Regions from separate parts of the Homo sapiens genome. Here all the other regions are reported to be linked to region 4. Evidence: microRNA targets listed by miRTarBase, many of them from high-throughput screens and not tested one by one. Region 4 holds a microRNA gene; each other region holds the end of a gene's coding sequence.
The links. The annotated mature microRNA hsa-miR-4531 reads AUGGAGAAGGCUUCUGA and lies in region 4 at 2,434-2,450, opposite strand. An mRNA with a match to its seed (bases 2 to 7 or 8) in the 3' UTR can be bound and repressed. Matches are read on the target gene's strand: a 7mer-m8 pairs with bases 2 to 8, a 7mer-A1 pairs with bases 2 to 7 and ends in A, and an 8mer does both.

Region 1: the mRNA of POU3F1 is a reported target of hsa-miR-4531. Seed matches in the 3' UTR shown: 7mer-m8 at 3,288-3,294.
Region 2: the mRNA of SULT1B1 is a reported target of hsa-miR-4531. Seed matches in the 3' UTR shown: 7mer-m8 at 1,934-1,940.
Region 3: the mRNA of PHC2 is a reported target of hsa-miR-4531. Seed matches in the 3' UTR shown: 7mer-m8 at 3,162-3,168.

The regions. Positions count from the first base shown.
Region 1 is chr1:38,041,684-38,045,683 of GRCh38, forward strand. POU3F1 (POU class 3 homeobox 1) reads right to left here. Exons shown (of 1, transcript NM_002699.4): 1 at 2,146-4,000. The coding sequence ends at 3,705. Among named protein-coding and RNA genes, the nearest start is that of POU3F1, 3.1 kb to the right of the region's middle.
Region 2 is chr4:69,723,330-69,727,329 of GRCh38, reverse strand. SULT1B1 (sulfotransferase family 1B member 1) reads left to right here. Exons shown (of 8, transcript NM_014465.4): 8 at 130-4,000. The coding sequence ends at 242. Among named protein-coding and RNA genes, the nearest start is that of SULT1B1, 35 kb to the left of the region's middle.
Region 3 is chr1:33,321,278-33,325,277 of GRCh38, forward strand. PHC2 (polyhomeotic homolog 2) reads right to left here. Exons shown (of 15, transcript NM_001385109.1): 15 at 2,349-3,742. The coding sequence ends at 3,588. Among named protein-coding and RNA genes, the nearest start is that of A3GALT2, 2.2 kb to the left of the region's middle.
Region 4 is chr19:44,651,256-44,655,255 of GRCh38, forward strand. MIR4531 (microRNA 4531) reads right to left here and starts at 2,477; the gene lies at 2,431-2,477. It overlaps PVR (PVR cell adhesion molecule), which reads left to right. Exons shown (of 8, transcript NM_006505.5): 4 at 2,645-2,762. RefSeq lists an enhancer at 3,448-3,507.

The DNA of each region.
Region 1 (4,000 bases), not on the chromosome of region 4:
CTTGTCCTAACTCTATTCTATCCAGGGAAAAAGATTTCTCTTTCCTATAAAGTGCTGAGATTCCTACCATGTAGGGGCCTTCTGCGACCAAGGGGTTGATCACCAGGTAGCTATCTCATGCTGGTATCTCATTAAGCCAGATCCTTGCAAAGTAAAAGATTTTCTTCCATCCCTTTTTCCACTTTTTTTTTTTCTCATTTTTTTTTGTTCTACTCCTCAGCTGCTGCTGGTTCTTGGGAGGCTGCTTTGTTTTGCTATTTTTGAGTTGACTTGCTTAAATAATAAACCCACCCTCTTGTAGAGGATTAAGCAGACAATTAGGAAATCAATCAATCAATTGGTGTCAGCTGCAGGCAGAGGCCGGTGAAAGGCCTCATCTTCCCGGTGGCCCTTTCCAACCTCAAAACCTGCTGAGGCTCTGGGCCGCGCAGGCGGCGGGAGCTCTCAGCTTCATTTGCTTCCATTTCAGAGCCTTGAGGCTGGGACAAATCCAGGAATGGAGAAATGAGGGAGCAGGGAGGAGTGTGTGGCGGCTTCAAAGTTTTGTTCTTGGTGGAGTAGGAAATGAGAGGCTGAGGCAGGGTGGTCAGTGGCTCCTGGCTATGCCATTGCCCAGCTGGCCGGTATGTTGCCAGCTTCCTCTTTAGGAAACATGGGAGGGAAGGCTGCCTGGCCCACCAGTGTGGGGAACGGCTGGGACACAGGTGCCAATTACAGGGCTATTCACTCACCTGGCTGGACTGAGCTGAGGAGGAGAAGAAAAAAGGAGCAGGGAGTGAGGGGCTGGGCCTCTAGAAGCCGAGGCAGCCTTTGTACTTGCAGAGACAATTCCCCCCAAGAGTGAGGGCCGAGCGCAGAAAGTCGCCAGGAACTCTCAGCATGGCACAGTCATCCCGAGGCCCTAGCCCCGCCGGGGAGCACCAACTTGGGGCCCTGGGGACACCTCTCTGGACATCCCTGACACCGTCAGCTAGAGCCCAGGCCTCTCACAGGCCTGGACTTGGGCCGCTTCCCTGGCAGGAGGGGCCCCACACGCCCCCTCACTAGGGTCAGCTTTCTCCCCAGCTAAGAGATTGTGCCTTCAAGCTTTGGCTTCACAAAGAGTGAGAGAAACCGCATGTGGCTTCTCCTGAGAGGGGAAAAGAACTGCGTCTACGGAGGAAGCAGGAAGAGCTCTTTTATCAGTATTTTTAAGAAGGGTTGTTTTAAAGGAGAAAATAAGGTCTTGACTGGAACCCAGGTAGTCTGGAGCTCTGCGTCGGGAACCAGATCTGCCCCCAGATACCCTGACTCACTCCAGAAGACAGCATCTGAGGTCTGTGCTCTCCTTCCTATCACTCCCTGCAGTGGTGGCGGTGATGAGGGTCTTGGGTACCCAACCTTGGAAAGAAGATATCAGGTCTTTCTGATGGCACAGTTACCCGTGCCTCCACTTCTCCCCAACAGAAGCTGGGGCAGCGGTTTGTTTGCAGAGACATAAGACCGGCTTTGCCCAAGCAAATTGGCAGGGCTCCCTCCCTAGGCTGACCCAGCTCACGTAGGACCATGAAAGCCACGTCTGTCTAAGCTGTTAGAACTCCCAGTGCATCCAGGGGGGCTTGGGCACCATTTGAGTTTGGGTGGAGAGCCTGCTGGAGTAGGATGGTGGGGCCTCACCAGGCTTCCAGGTGCCCTAGGACTGGGAATGGTAAAGTTGGCTCAGACCTCTCATATAGAGTGCAAGGTGAAATGAAAGTTGGGGGTTGAGGTGTCAGGTGGGGGATTATAGATTCTAGGCTGGTGACCCAGGCCGAGGTGGGCTTCTTTCTTGGTGGAGAAGAGCAGTCGAGTTGTGCATGAACAATGGCTGATCCGAATTCCATGTGGTGTCTTTGGCTCACTGTCCCGGGCCCTGGTTTGGTCTAGGAGAGTCTGTCTACGACAGGGGGACACGAGGCAGCTTCATCTTCCCTAAACTGATGCATCTGAGGCAGGGGCCCAACTGTTGCCCATGTCCTGATATCCACCTGGAAGGTCTGCAGGGTCATCTTCCTCCAAGATCTCTCCTGGTGAGATCAGAACTTCAGGGAGGTGAAGCAGGGGATCCCATCGCTTCACCCCAAAAACCCACCCAGCCCTAGCAGTAAAAAGGACAGGACACAGCCCTGGGGTACATGTTTATGTGAGTAATAAAATATTTACTATAACATAAATATAAAGGGAACTTCCCAGTCTACATTATTTTTTTTTCAATAAAGATACAAAGAGAATGCACCGAAACATTGTTTCAAAAAATAATAAAAATAAAATAACAAAATTTAAATTCAAACCTTAACAAACAGAAGAAGAAACGGAGAAGGGGGAAGCTCCAAACACATCCAGAAAATAAATAGAGATGGGTCAGAAATTCGGAAATCATATTAAAATATCTTTTTCGGATTAGTCAGTGTACAAAATCCTTTAGGGTAGGAAGGAAGGGTAACCCGGAAAACCAAAAATAAAAACCAAGCACAAAATGTTTCTTCTCCCCGCCAGTGTGTACATATCTCACATATTTACATGGTTCCCACCTCACCCCAAACTTGGGGAATTTCTCTCCCGGCCTCCCCTGGCATCCCGCATCCCGGCGGGCTGGAAAGGGAGCAGAGGGAAGCTGCAGGGAATCAGGCGGAGGGTTCTCAGGGAACGGCTTATTTCTACAGCTGGTTAAAAAACAATCTCTCTAACTTTTCCAAGTTTCGTTTGGTGTGGCCAGGAGGGCAGGGCCCCGCGGGGAGCAGGGGCCGCGCTATGCGGCGGTCGGTCTGCAGCAGGGCAGAAGCCCCTTCCCGTCTGGGTGTGTGGGAGCGCAGACCCCTCCGGCGTGGCCGGGAACCAAGCCGGGGCTCGGATGAAACGAAACGAAAAATGAACACTCGAATTTTTTTTGTTAGTTTTTTTTTTTTTTTTTTGCTTTTTTTTGGGGGGAGGGTAGGGTAGGGAAATATAAGGGGAAAAATAAATTAGGCTAGATTAAAGCTTTGGCTATTTCCTGCTTTTATACACAGACGCGGCTCTCGCGACCTCCCCTCCGGGGCCCCGATAAATACAGTATACTGCGATTTAAATTAAGGGCGCGGGCGGAGTTAGAAGGACCCCAGGAGCCGAGAGGCTCCACGAATAAATAAAAACCGTAAAAAACCAAGCCCGGAGAAAGGGGAAAGCGGGGTGGGGCGCATCCTTATAGGAGAGAAGAGGCGTGTAGCGAATAAAGTGACAGCCCCCCACCCTGGACCCGCAGGCTCAGGAGTCCACGCGGGGAGAGGGGATGGAGAACTCTCCTCGCTTCGTCCTCTCTCCCGGGGAATCCCTAACCCCGCACTGCGTTACCTGTCGCTTTGGGGAGGCCGCTGCCGGGATCCGGCCCCGAACAGCCCGGGGGGGCAGGGGCGGGGGTCGTCGAGGGGATGGGGGCAGAGAGCAGGCGGCGGGCAGGATGCCCGGGGTGAGTTGGCGAGTTCCGGATCTTCGCTCCTCTCTCCCGGGGCTCGGGCGACGCAGCCTACCGGGCTGTCTTCGCCGCTCACCGGAGAGGGTCGTCCGGGTGTTTGGTTTTGTTCGAAAGTTTCTGGGCTTTTTTTTTTTTTTGTAAAATCCAAAGCAACCGAACAAAAAGAGTCCAGGCCGCGCGGGCGGGCTGCGCGCCCGCGCCCTGCAGCGCGCCGGCGGGGGCCCGGCCCGCGGGGTCACTGCACTGAGCCGGGCAGTGTGTGGTGGTGGTGGTGGTGCAGCGCCGCCGGCGGGGGCGGTGGGGGCGCGGAGGGTGGCGATGCGCCGCCCCCGCCAGGCCCTAGCTCCCCAGGCGCGTATACATCGTCCATGGGCGGGTGGCCCGCGCCGGCCGCAGGGGTCATGCGCTTCTCCTTCTGCCGCCGGTTGCAGAACCAGACGCGCACCACCTCCTTCTCCAGCTGCAGGCTGTCTGCCAAGCCGGTGATCTCGTGCGCCGAGGGCTTGGGGCACTTGAGAAAGTGGCTCTCGA
Region 2 (4,000 bases), not on the chromosome of region 4:
GACTGTTTGAATTCATTCAAATAAAAGGAAGGTCTTTCTTTAGGCCTTCTAATCTTTTCCTTTGGTATATACTGATTTCTTCTTATGGAAATATTTTATTCTTTCCTATGTTTTTTTATTTACCTTTAGGGACGGCTGGTGACTGGAAGAATTACTTCACCGTGGCCCAAAATGAGAAATTTGATGCTATTTATGAGACAGAAATGTCCAAAACTGCACTTCAATTCCGCACAGAGATTTAAAGTGTCTAAATCACACATCTGAAGAAATAAGAGATTGTCTGTAGTTGATTGAAACGAGGGCAGTTATGAATTGATTTGGGCAATCAAATGAATTTATAAAGGAGAATAATATGCTTTTAATATGTTGATTCTTTTCAATGTTATTAATCAGATCCCAGTTTTGTTCCTTTGATTCTGAGTTTCCAAATTCTCTAAGGCTAAAGTTCATTGTTAACTTTTTGTAACAAAGGAACAATGTAACCACAGGCTCTTCCTGCCTTTTTCTACACTAGTACTGATAAGAAAGAAGGGATTTATTTTACTTAATCTCCCATATATTATGATTTAGAATTAAGTTCCCCTCCCTAGTACCATGGTCCAAGAAATGCTGTTTTCATAATGAGACTATATTTCCTAACTCTGCCCCAATTTCCCTTTGCCGAAAATTTGACCCAGGACACTGTGTTCCACTGCTGTCTACCGAGTTTCAAGTTGTTCTCTGAGTCATAGCTCATCTTCCTGCAGTGCCTCTATTTGGATAACAAAGTTCATGTCCCCGATCATGTAGTTCAGATTTTGGAAATCTTTTTTCTATATCATACCTAATGTCTAAGTCTCCGAAAGGCAAACGCCTACAATAGTCTCTGTAGGATTGGTTACCTGGGAACTGGAGCTCTGTTCTGAAAAGCAGCCCTGAGGGCTGTGACCTACTTCTTATGGGGAGTCCTCTTTTTCCCAACAGACCCGTTTGAACTTCAGAGAAATCACCTACTGCTGTGTTCTGGTCACCATTTGGGAACTTCAGTTACTTAATCTTATATTTGGATAGATTTGGATACCTTAATAGCACCTTTAATATCCTAGACATGATCATAACCTCTGCAAAATATTTCCCAATCTGGTGCCCAAGGAAGACTCTCTAGGCTGAATCTCCACTCTGCCCTCTTGACCCAATGTTCCTTCTACTTATTATTACATGCTTATATCTATTTGTGTGGTCTCTGATCTATGTTTTCTTGGAACATTTATATATATATATATATATATATATATATATATATATATATATATATATGTACATTTTATTATTATACTTTAAGTTCCAGGTTACATGTGCACAATGTGCAGGTTTGTTATATATGCATACATGTGCCATGTTGGTGTGCTGCATCCATTAACTCGTCATTTACATTAGGTATACCTCCTAATGCTATCCTTCCCCCCTCCCTCCACCCCACAACAGGCCCCAGTGTGTGATGTTACCTTTCCTGTGTCCAAGTGTTCTCATCGTTCAATTCCCACCAATGACTAAGAACATGAGGTGTTTGGTTTTTTTGTTCTTGCAATAGTTTGCTGAAAAGTATGGTTTCCAGCTTTATCCATGTCCCTACAAAGGACATGAACTCATCATTTTTTATGGCTGCACAGTATTCTATGGTGTATATGTGCCACATTTTCTTAATCCAGTCTATCATTGATGGACATTTGGGTTGGTTCCAAGTCTTTGCTATTGTGAATAGTGCCGCAATAAATATACGTGTGCATGTGTCTTTATAGCAGCATGATTTATAATCCTTTGGGTATATACCCAGTAATGGGATGGCTGGGTCAAATGGTATTTCTAGTTCTAGATCTCTGAGGAATTGCCACACTGTCTTCCACAATGGTTGAACTAGTTTACACTCCCACCAAAAGTGTAAAAGTGTTCCTATTTCTCCACATCCTTTCCAGCACCTGTTGTTTCCTGACTTTTTAATGATTGCCATTCTAACTGGTGTGAGATGGTATCTCATTGTGGTTTTGATTTGCATTTCCCTGATGGCCAGTGATGATGAGCATTTTTTCATGTGTCTGTTGGCTGCATAAATGTCTTCTTTTGAGAAGTATCTGTTCATATTCTTTGCACACTTGTTGATGGGGTTGTTTTTTTTTTCTTGTAAATTTGTTTGAGTTCTTTGTAGATTCTGGATATTAGCCCTTTGTCAGATGAGTAGATTGCAAAAATTTTCTCCCATTCTGTAGGTTGCCTGTTCACGCTGATGGTAGTTTCTTTTGCTGTGCAGAAGCTCTTTAGTTTAATTAGATCCCATTTGTCAATTTTGGCTTTTGTTGCCATTGCTTTTGGTGTTTTAGACATGAAGTCCTTGCCCATGCCTATGTCCTGAATGATATTGCCTAGGTTTTCTTCTAGGGTTTTTATGGTTTTAGGTCTTACATTTAAGTCTTTAATCCATCTTGAATTAATTTTTGTATAAGGTGTAAGGAAGGGATCCAGGTTCTGCTTTCTACATATGGCTAGCCAGTTTTCCCAGCACCATTTATTAAATAGGGAATCCTTTCCCCATTGCTTGTTTTCGTCAGGTTTGTCAAAGATCAGATAATTGTAGATGTGTAGTATTATTTCTGAGGGCTCTGTTCTGTTCCATTGGTCTATATCTCTGTTTTGGTCCAGTACCATGCTGTTTTGGTTACTGTAGCCTTGTAGTATAGTTTGAAGTCAGGTAGTATGATGCTTCCAGCTTTGCTCTTTTGGCTTAGGATTGACTTGGCAATGCGGGCTCTTTTTTGGTTTCTTATGAACTTTAAAGTAGTTTTTTCCAATTCTGTGAAGAAAGTCATTGGTAGCTTAATGGGGATGGCATTGAATCTATAAATGACCTTGGGCAGTATGGCCATTTTCATGATATTGATTCTTCCTATCCATGAGCATGGAATGTTCTTCTATTTGTTTGTATCCTCTTTTATTTCATTGAGCAGTGGTTTGTAGTTCTCCTTGAAGTGATCCTTCACATCCCTTGTAAGTTGGATTCCTAGGTATTTTATTCTCTTTGAAGCAATTGTGAATGGGAGTTCACTCCTGATTTGGCTCTCTGTCTGTTATTGGTGTATAAGAATGCTTGTGATTTTTGTACATTGATTTTGTATCCTGAGACTTTGCTGAAGTTGCTTATCAGCTTAAGGAGATTTTGGGCTGAGACAATGGGGTTTTCTACATATACAATCATGTCATCTGCAAACAGGGACAATTTGACTTCCTCTTCTCCTAATTGAATACCCTTTATTTCTTTCTCCTGCCTGATTGCCCTGGCCAGAACTTCCAACACTATGTTGAATAGGAGTGGTGAGAGACGGCATCCCTGTCTTGTGCCAGTTTTCAAAGGGAATGCTTCCAGGTTTTGCCCATGCAGTATGATATTGGCTGGTGGTTTGTCATAGAGGGCTCTCCTTATTTTGAGATACATTCCATCAATACCTAATTTATTGAGAGTTTTTAGCATGAAGGCTGTTGAATTTTGTCAAAGGCCTTTTCTGCATCTATTGAGATAATCATGTGGTTTTTGTCTTTGGTTCTGTTTATATGCTGGATTACATTTATTGATTTGCATATGTTGAACCAGCCTTGAATCCCAGGGATGAAGCCCACTTGATCATGGTGGATAAGCTTTTTGATGTGCTGCTGGATTCGGTTTGCCAGTATTTTATTGAGGATTTTTGCATCAATGTTCATCAGGGTTATTGGTCTAAAATTCTCTTTTTTTGTTGTGTCTCTGCCAGGCTTTGGTATCAGGATGATGCTGGCCTCATAAAATGAGTTAGGGAGGATTCCCTCCTTTTCTGTTCATTGGAATAGTTTCAGAAGGAATGGTACCAGCTCCTCCTTGGACCTCTGGTAGAATTCAGCTGTGAATCTATCTGGTCCTGGACTTCTTTTGGTTGGTAAGCTATTAATTATTGCCTCTATTTCAGAGCATGTTATTTTTCTATTCAGAGATTCAACT
Region 3 (4,000 bases), not on the chromosome of region 4:
GGGGAAGCTGGCCCCAAGGTGGAGTGGGGCTGGCAACCCTTTTGGGGCCAATCACCTGGAAGAGGGTGGGTCTGAGTAGGCCAGTTCTGGTTGGCTGGAGGCTCTGTCATTTTGTACAGACTCCTCTTCCCTCCCCAGGGGAAGTGTCTTTGGTTCTTGGGAACAGCTGGCAATCAAGGTATGGTGTTTGCCACGCAGGAAAAGCCGTTCTGCACAGAGCCTCAGCCAGATCTGAAGGGCACTCGGCACCTGTGACCTTGGACAGTTCACCTAGTGGAGCCCTTTACCTTCTCAGTAGAATGTACACCAGTACATACACCAGTCACCCAGGAGAGAGAACCATGTAAATTCGTGGATGTTGAACCGTTGTGATTTACTCTGGGCAGTGCTTTTTAAAGTTCCAGTTGTGACCTATCTGAAGGCCGTGTAATGAGTTTAGTGGGTCGTGACCAAGATTTTTAAAATACGAACAGGAATACAATGGAAAATATTCTATATTGTACGTAAGGGTAGGTTTTGTTTCATGAAATGTTTGTTTCAGTTGATAGATATTGAAATGTGTATACAAGTTTGGGAAATATTTCTTTAAATTGTGGATCATGATGGAAATAGGTCTGTGAAATTCAGTGTGAAGTGTAAACAACAGGAATAGCAAATGCCTATTGCAGGTGCACCCTGCAAACTTGCAGCAGGTTGGAGCTTTTCATCTAAAGAAGATGGATACTTATTGGTGTGAATCAAATTCACCACATCTTCTTTTAGGAGTAGGTTTGGTTCCCTCCCTCTTTGCTACACACAACAAACTCAGGTGGGGCCTGGTTTTCATTTTCTTCCATAAAGGGAAAATTAAGGTCCAGAAAGTGAAAAGAACTGCCCAGAGTCCTATAGGCCAGTGGTGCACCTGCGCACGTGGCCTGCACTCCAGCAGCAGGAGAGGCGGCAGCACATGGGGCGTTCGTTCTTGCCTGGGGGCTCCCCAGGGCTCACTCCCCAATCTCAGCATCCTCCTCCTCCCGTCAGCTCAGGGTCCTGCCAGCCATTCCCTGCCTCCTGGGACAGGCTTTCCAGTCCCTAGTTCTACCCCCTGGGGATCAACTAATCAGTGTGTTTCTCCTCCAAGACAGTTCCATTTTAATAGGCTTTCCAAAGAGGAGTTATTAAGATGTGAGTGTTGGTTCTTGAAAGTTACTTTCAAGTAAGTAATTGTCCTTTAGAGACTGTGATTCAGTAGGTTGTGGCCTGACCCTCAAACCACCCCCACCCCTGCTTTTTTTTTAAAAAAAAATAGGGTTTTTGTCTGTCACCTGGGTTGGGGGTGCAGTGGTGCAATCATAGCTCACTGCAGCCTTGAACTCTTGGGCTCAAGTGATCGACCTCAGCCTCCAGAATAGCTGGGATTACAGGTATGCACCACCTTGCCATTTTTTGGTATTTTTTTGTAGATATGGGGTCTCTCTATGTTGCCCAGGTTGGTCTCAAACTCCTGGCCTCAAGCAATCCTCCCACATCGGCCTCCCCAAAGTGCTGGGTTTACAGATGTGAGCAGCCATAACCTAAATTTTTAACAGGTAGAAATGGTCCCTTAGGGAAAAACCTGATGAAGGGGGAGGAGCAGTAAGGCCAAGCTGCCTCTTTTTCCCCTCCCCCCATAGATGTGGGGTAGATTTCACTCCACGCAAGAGGGCACATGGTTATTCTGTGCTTCACCCCAGTCTCATTTCTAGCACAGTGCCTGGTTCAGAGGCATGTGGTCAACACAGGTCACGGTTAGCAGCACACACGTCTAATCCAGCCAGCTCACCTGCCTCTCATTTGCACTTCCACGTTCATGCTTGTGCCTTTGCACTTATGCCTCGGTCTGGAATGCCCTTTCTCCTTCTTTATTCAAGGCTTAGATGCCTCATCTCTGCCCTAATCATTTTCTATTTGAGCATGCAAAAGTGCTCAGTGAACCAAAGCCATCCCAAGGCTATTCTGGATGCTGTGCAGCTCTATCGAGAGGTGTGTGCTGGAAGATGGGAGAGTCTGGGTTCTGCCCCAGGTGTCCAGAGGCTGCTAGCCCAACAGTCATCATCTCCCAAGTGGGAATGGCGGGTAGGGGGGCGCAGAGCAGAAAGGGCTTCTGGACCCTCTCACTCCAAGGGACACCGTGTGAAGAAAGCTGGTATCTACCGTGTGAACTGCAGCTGAGGGCACCCTCAAATGACCCAGCTCCAGAAAAGTGTGGAGGATATGCCATCCACTTAAGGTCCCTTCCCCAGCCCAGGGACCCACCTGTCTGTATGGGTGAAAAGTAGCCATTTGGGCCCAGAGACAGGCATTCCTAGGGGAGAAAGGCACCAAAGAGACAGATTTTACAGATTTATTTTTAAAAAACAAAACAAAGGTTAAAAAAGTCCTTCATTTCCAACCCTGCCTGGGGGTGTGGGTGGGGAATAGAATAAGCTCAGAAAGGTGCCTACCTCCTTCCTGCAAAGGACACGGCAGGTCAGAGGCAGGCCCTCGCCCTTTCTGCCCTGCCTCCTCCTCAGGTAGCTCAAATTGCTGCTAGGAAGATTTATAGGCAAAGAAGTGTGGGAGTGGGAGGCCAAGAGCTGCCTTCTTCACATCAACAGAAACTCCAGCTGTTCTTTCCCCTTAGCAGTTCTCTGAGCCTCACCACTGGGACTCCCAGGGTGGGCGGGCAGGCAGGCCAGGAGGCTCAGCCCTTTGGGCTATGTTGCTCAGACCACCGCAGCTTTCTTAATGCTCTTTGTGAACCAGGAGGGCGGTCAGGGGAACTTCACAGTGCGGGGAGGGGTGTCTGGAAAGGAAACTCTGAAGCGCCGTCTCTTTCTGACCTTGCCTCTGCGCTGAGGCTGCCATTCTTGGCTATTCCCCATCCTGAGGCTGAGTGGAGTCCAGGACAAAGCACTAAGTGGCTGTTTGCTACAAAACACCTGGAGATGCCAGAGAGTAGCCCTTGGCCTATCTGTCAGTCCAGGCTCCCACACAGTCACACAGTCATACACACAGCGTTAAGGCGTCTGTGCCAGCAGGCACGGCCCGGCTGGGCCCAGCTTCTCTCTCTCCACCTGCAGAGGGTGTAGGGGGGAGAACCCTGGCTGCTGCAGAAACAGGCTGAAGGGGGAGAAGCTGACAACGGAAGAGTTAACCAGGCCTGGAGAAAGAAGTGGGAGGAAGGAAGGCAAGGGCTTTCTAGGCCTCCATCCAGGCCTGCTGGCTGCCCTTGAAGTAACCCAACTCAGGTTGGGGAGCCCTGACCATATACCCCCTGGAAAATGGGGGACAGAAAGAGGGGAAGAGAGCGGGGCTAGAGTATTGGGACTTTGGAGGAAGCCAGTGCTATCAATATTTACAAGCATAAAGCCCCATCTTCTGTGCCACCTACCTCTCTGCCCCTCCCACAGAAATGAAAGGCCCCTGAGAGCCATGGAGGAGGTGCCCAGACCTCCTCACCAGCTATGCCCCTAGGGAGAGCCCCTGCCCTCCAACCGGCCCCATTTCTGGGCCCCTCAGGAATGTCTGTCTGGCTCTGCTCAGTCGGGAGGAGGCGCCCTGGGCCAGAATCCTGGCTGCCACCAGCCCTAGGAGTCCTTGAGCATGCTGATGCGGGCGTAGATCTTCAGGGCGGGCCCCAGCTTGATGTTCATGGCGCTCATCAGGTGGTCCTCCTTGAGCAGCAGCAGGGCTTGCCCGTCGATTTCCTGGGCACGGAATTCCTCTGCTATCTCCTGGCAGCCTGAGGGGGTACCACCAAAGACAGTGTCAATCCAAGCCGCCAGTGTTCACCTCTGGCAGCCACTGCATCTAGTTATCTAGATCTAGTTATCTGCATCCATTATTTCTTTTAGTCCTCATAACCACGCCTTGAGGAAGGCGCTGCTGTTCTTATTTTGCAGCTTGAGAGAGGCTGTGCAACTCACCCACAGCAGCCGCGATCTGGGCCTCCTCCTATGTTCCCCTGTTCAGACCCCTGCTCCATGAACTGGGCGGACCC
Region 4 (4,000 bases):
ATTTTGGCCACCAGCTGTGGGGTGTTTTCACTGTCTCCCATAGTGTCTACACTGGCTCCTATGACCACTGTCTATGTAAACACCCCACTTTTTCTACACTGGTTCTCCTAGGCACTCTCTAAAGTGCCCCCTGACACTGTCTACACTGACTCCCTGGAGAACTGTCTGCATTCACCTCCCACATTGTATCGACCAGTTCCCCTGAGCCACGATCAACTGTCTCCGCCGGGTGCTAGTTGCATTGATCTTCTCACATTGTTTGTGCTGGCTCCCCTAAGCAGTGTCTGCAGAGTCCCCCAGTGTAGTCTCCATGTTCCTCTGCCCAATATTGTCTACACTGGCTCATCTACAGGCTATCCAGTCTCACCCCACATCACCACACTGGCCTCCTTGTGTTCTGTCTGCACAGCCCCCTGACAGCATCTGTCCTGATTCTCCTGCACAGCGTTACCTCCACCAGCTCCCTCATGGCATCATCGACATTGACACCCACACATTTATCTCCACTGACAGCCCCAGGACTCTCTAACCAGTGCTGTCTAACAGAAATAGCATGCAAGCTGCATATAGGATTTTAAATTCTCCAGCGGCCACCCCATTAAAAAATTAAAAGAAAGAGGCCAGGCACGGTGGCTCACGCCTGTAATCCCAGCACTTTGGGAGGCCGAGGCAGGTGGATCACCTGAGGTCAGGCATTCAAGACCAGCCTGATCAATGTGGTGAAACTCTGTCTTCACTAAAAAATACAAAAATTAGCCAGGCACGGTGGCGGGTGCCTGTAATCCCAGCTACTCGGGAGACTGAGGCAGGAGAATCACTTGAACCTGGGAGGCGGAGATTGCAATGAGCGAGATTACGCCATTGCACTCCAGCCTGGGCAGCAGAGCAAAACTCCATCTCAAAAACAAGAAAAGAAAGAGATGAAATTTATTTGTTTATTTATTTATCTATTTATTTATTTGAGACGGGGTCTTACTCTGTCACCCAGACTGGAGTGCAGTGGCACAGCTCCCTGCAGCCTCAACCTCCTGGGCTTAAGTGATCCTCCCACCTCAGCCTCAGTCTCCTGAGTAGCTGGGACTACAGGCGTGTGACACCATGCCTAGCTAATTTTTGTTTTTGTTTTTGTTTTTGTTTTTTTGTTTTGTGATGAAGTCTTGCTCTGTCACCCAGGCTAGAGTGCAGTGGCACGATCTCAACTCACTGCAGCCTCCGCCTCTCGGGTTCAAGTGATTCTCCTGCCTCAGCCTCCCGAGTAGCTGGGATTACAAGCCCTGGCCACAGTGCCCAGCTAATTTTTGTATTTGTGGTAGAGACGGGATTTCACCATGTTGGCCAGGCTGGTCTCAAACTCCTGACCTCGTGATCCACCCACCTTGGCCTCCCAAATTGCTGGGATTACAGACGTGAGCCACCGCACCCGGCCTATTTTTATTTTTTCTGGAGACAGGATCTCCCTATGTTGCCCAGGCTGGTCTCAAACTCCTGGGCTCAAGTGATCCTCCTGCCTCAACCTCCCAAGGTACTGGGATTACAGGCATGAGCCACTGTGCCTGGCCAAAATTAATTTTTAATAATTGCCTTTACTTAACCCAATATACCTAAAATATTATTTCAACTTGTAATTGTTTTTTTAAAATTATTCTTGAGATCTTTCCCATTTATTTTGTCCTAGTAAAGCCTTTGAAATCTGGTGTGTATTTCGGCCTGGCTATATTTCGAGTGCTCAGTAGTCACATGTGGCCAGTAGGTGCCATATTGGACAGCACAGATCTAGACTAAGCTCCCACATCATCTACACTGGCTCATCCAAATACTGTCTACACACATACACAGAGCCTGTCTTAATTTCGTCAGCTCCCGGGGACACACTGTATATGTGGGGGTGATCTCACCCCCACCACCACATTTTCAACACTGGCCCGACAATATAGCATCTGCTGTAATATTCCAACACCCTGTCTACACTGAACCCATCAGTAATATCCACACAAGCTCTTCTAGACATCATTCATACTGTTCCTCCCACCATTGTCTATACTGCTTACTCCCCGCCAGGCAATTGGTACACAGATTCCCTCAGGTACTGTCTATACTGGAGTCCCTCAACACTGTCACTGGGTCTGAGCGAGGAGGAGATCTACACTGACTCCTACCCCTCGCCCCCGAATAAAACCCTGTCCCATTGGCCTGCCCCCAAGGACATTGAAAGGTCTTCGCTGTCAATCACGTATGGGATGGCTGAGCAGCAGCCTAGAGCAGGGTTATCTGGGACTCTTTCCTGCAGGACTTGTCAGAACCTTGAATACACTGCTGTGTGTTGTGAGTGGTCATTGCCTATGAGTGAGAAAAGGAGGAGGCATTTTCCTGCAGGACACCCAAGACATGCCTGGTCCAGGCTACCCAGGAAAGCTAGTGGAGAAAAGCAGCTCCTCAGAAGCCTTCTCCATGTCCCCACTGACCAAGGACTCCTAGGCTTCTGCTCTCTGTGGCACCCCATCTACCTAGACTCCTCCTAGGCCTCTCCAGCTCCCGCTGTTTTCCAAATATCCCCGGGCCTTTTCCTGCAGTGTCGTGAATCCCGCGTAGCCCCAGGCCCCCCAAAGCCTCCCAGTCTCTGAACCTCTGTATCCATTTCCTGCAGACCCCCCAGAGGTATCCATCTCTGGCTATGATAACAACTGGTACCTTGGCCAGAATGAGGCCACCCTGACCTGCGATGCTCGCAGCAACCCAGAGCCCACAGGCTATAATTGGAGCACGTGAGTCCTGGGTCTCAGGGAGGAGGGGCTGGGGGTCTGGATTTCTAGCACTGAGGGAGGAGGGGCTGGGGGCCTGGACTCCTGGGACTGAGGGAGAAGGGGCTGGGGGCCCGGACCCCTGGGTCTGAGGGACGAGAGGCTGGGAGCCCGGACTCCTGGGTCTGAGGGAAGAGGGGCTGGGGGTCTGGACCCCTGGGACTGAGAGAGGAGGGGCTGGGCCTGGACCCCTGGGTCTGAGGGAGGAGGGGCTGGGGGGTCTGGACCCCTGGGTCTGAGGGAGGAGAAGCTGGGAGCCTGGACCCCTGGGTCTGAGGCAGGACAGACTGGGGCCTGGACTCCTGGTCTAAGAGAGGAGGGAGATTCAGAAAAGAGAAAAAGAGGAGGTTGACTTCGGGCCCCCAGTGGGGGGCATCTCTGTTTTGACATCTCTGTTTTGCGGTTGAGGCGTTTAGCAGGTGGTTGAATCCTGGCTGGTGGATGCACCTGCTTTTTGGGGTGTGCCTGCTCTGTGCCCGGTACTTCCCCCGAATCCCATGTGACCCCATGCTGTGCACAGTCAGCAGCTGTTGCCCTGCCCAGGTTAAAGACCAGCCACGAGAGGGCAGAAGCGGCCCTTGAATCAGCGCTCGGCTCCAAAGCTGGTCCTCCGCCTCTTGGCCAAGCTTGTCTAACCTGCAGGCCACATCATTTGTAAACTTTCTTAAAACATTATGAGACTTTTTTTTTGCGAATTTTTTTAGCTCATTAGCTATTGTTAGTGTTAGTGTATTTTATGTATGGCCCAGGACAGTTCTTCTTCTTCCAATGTGGCCCGGGGAAGCCAAAAGATTGGACACCCCCACTCTAGACTGTAACCACCTCACCGTCACCTTGTGTAACCTACTTGGTTATCTCTGGATGGAGCAAGTACTATATATCCCCATTGTCTAGATGAGAAAGTTGAGGCTCACAGCAATAAGATTTCCCCAGATTCACACTGAGGCTGAGATCAAGAGCAAGGTAAGAAAAAGGCAAAGAGATAATACATAATTTTATAATACATAATTTTACATAAATTACATAATTTTACTGAACCGCCCTTTTTTTTTAAAGAAGGGGCTCTGTTGCCGAGGCTGGAGTGCAGTGGCGTGATCATAGCTCACTGCAGCCTGGACCTCCCTGGGCTCAGGTGATCCTCCCACCTCAGCCTCCTGAGTAGCTGGGACTACAGGCACACGCCACCACACTCAGCTAATTTT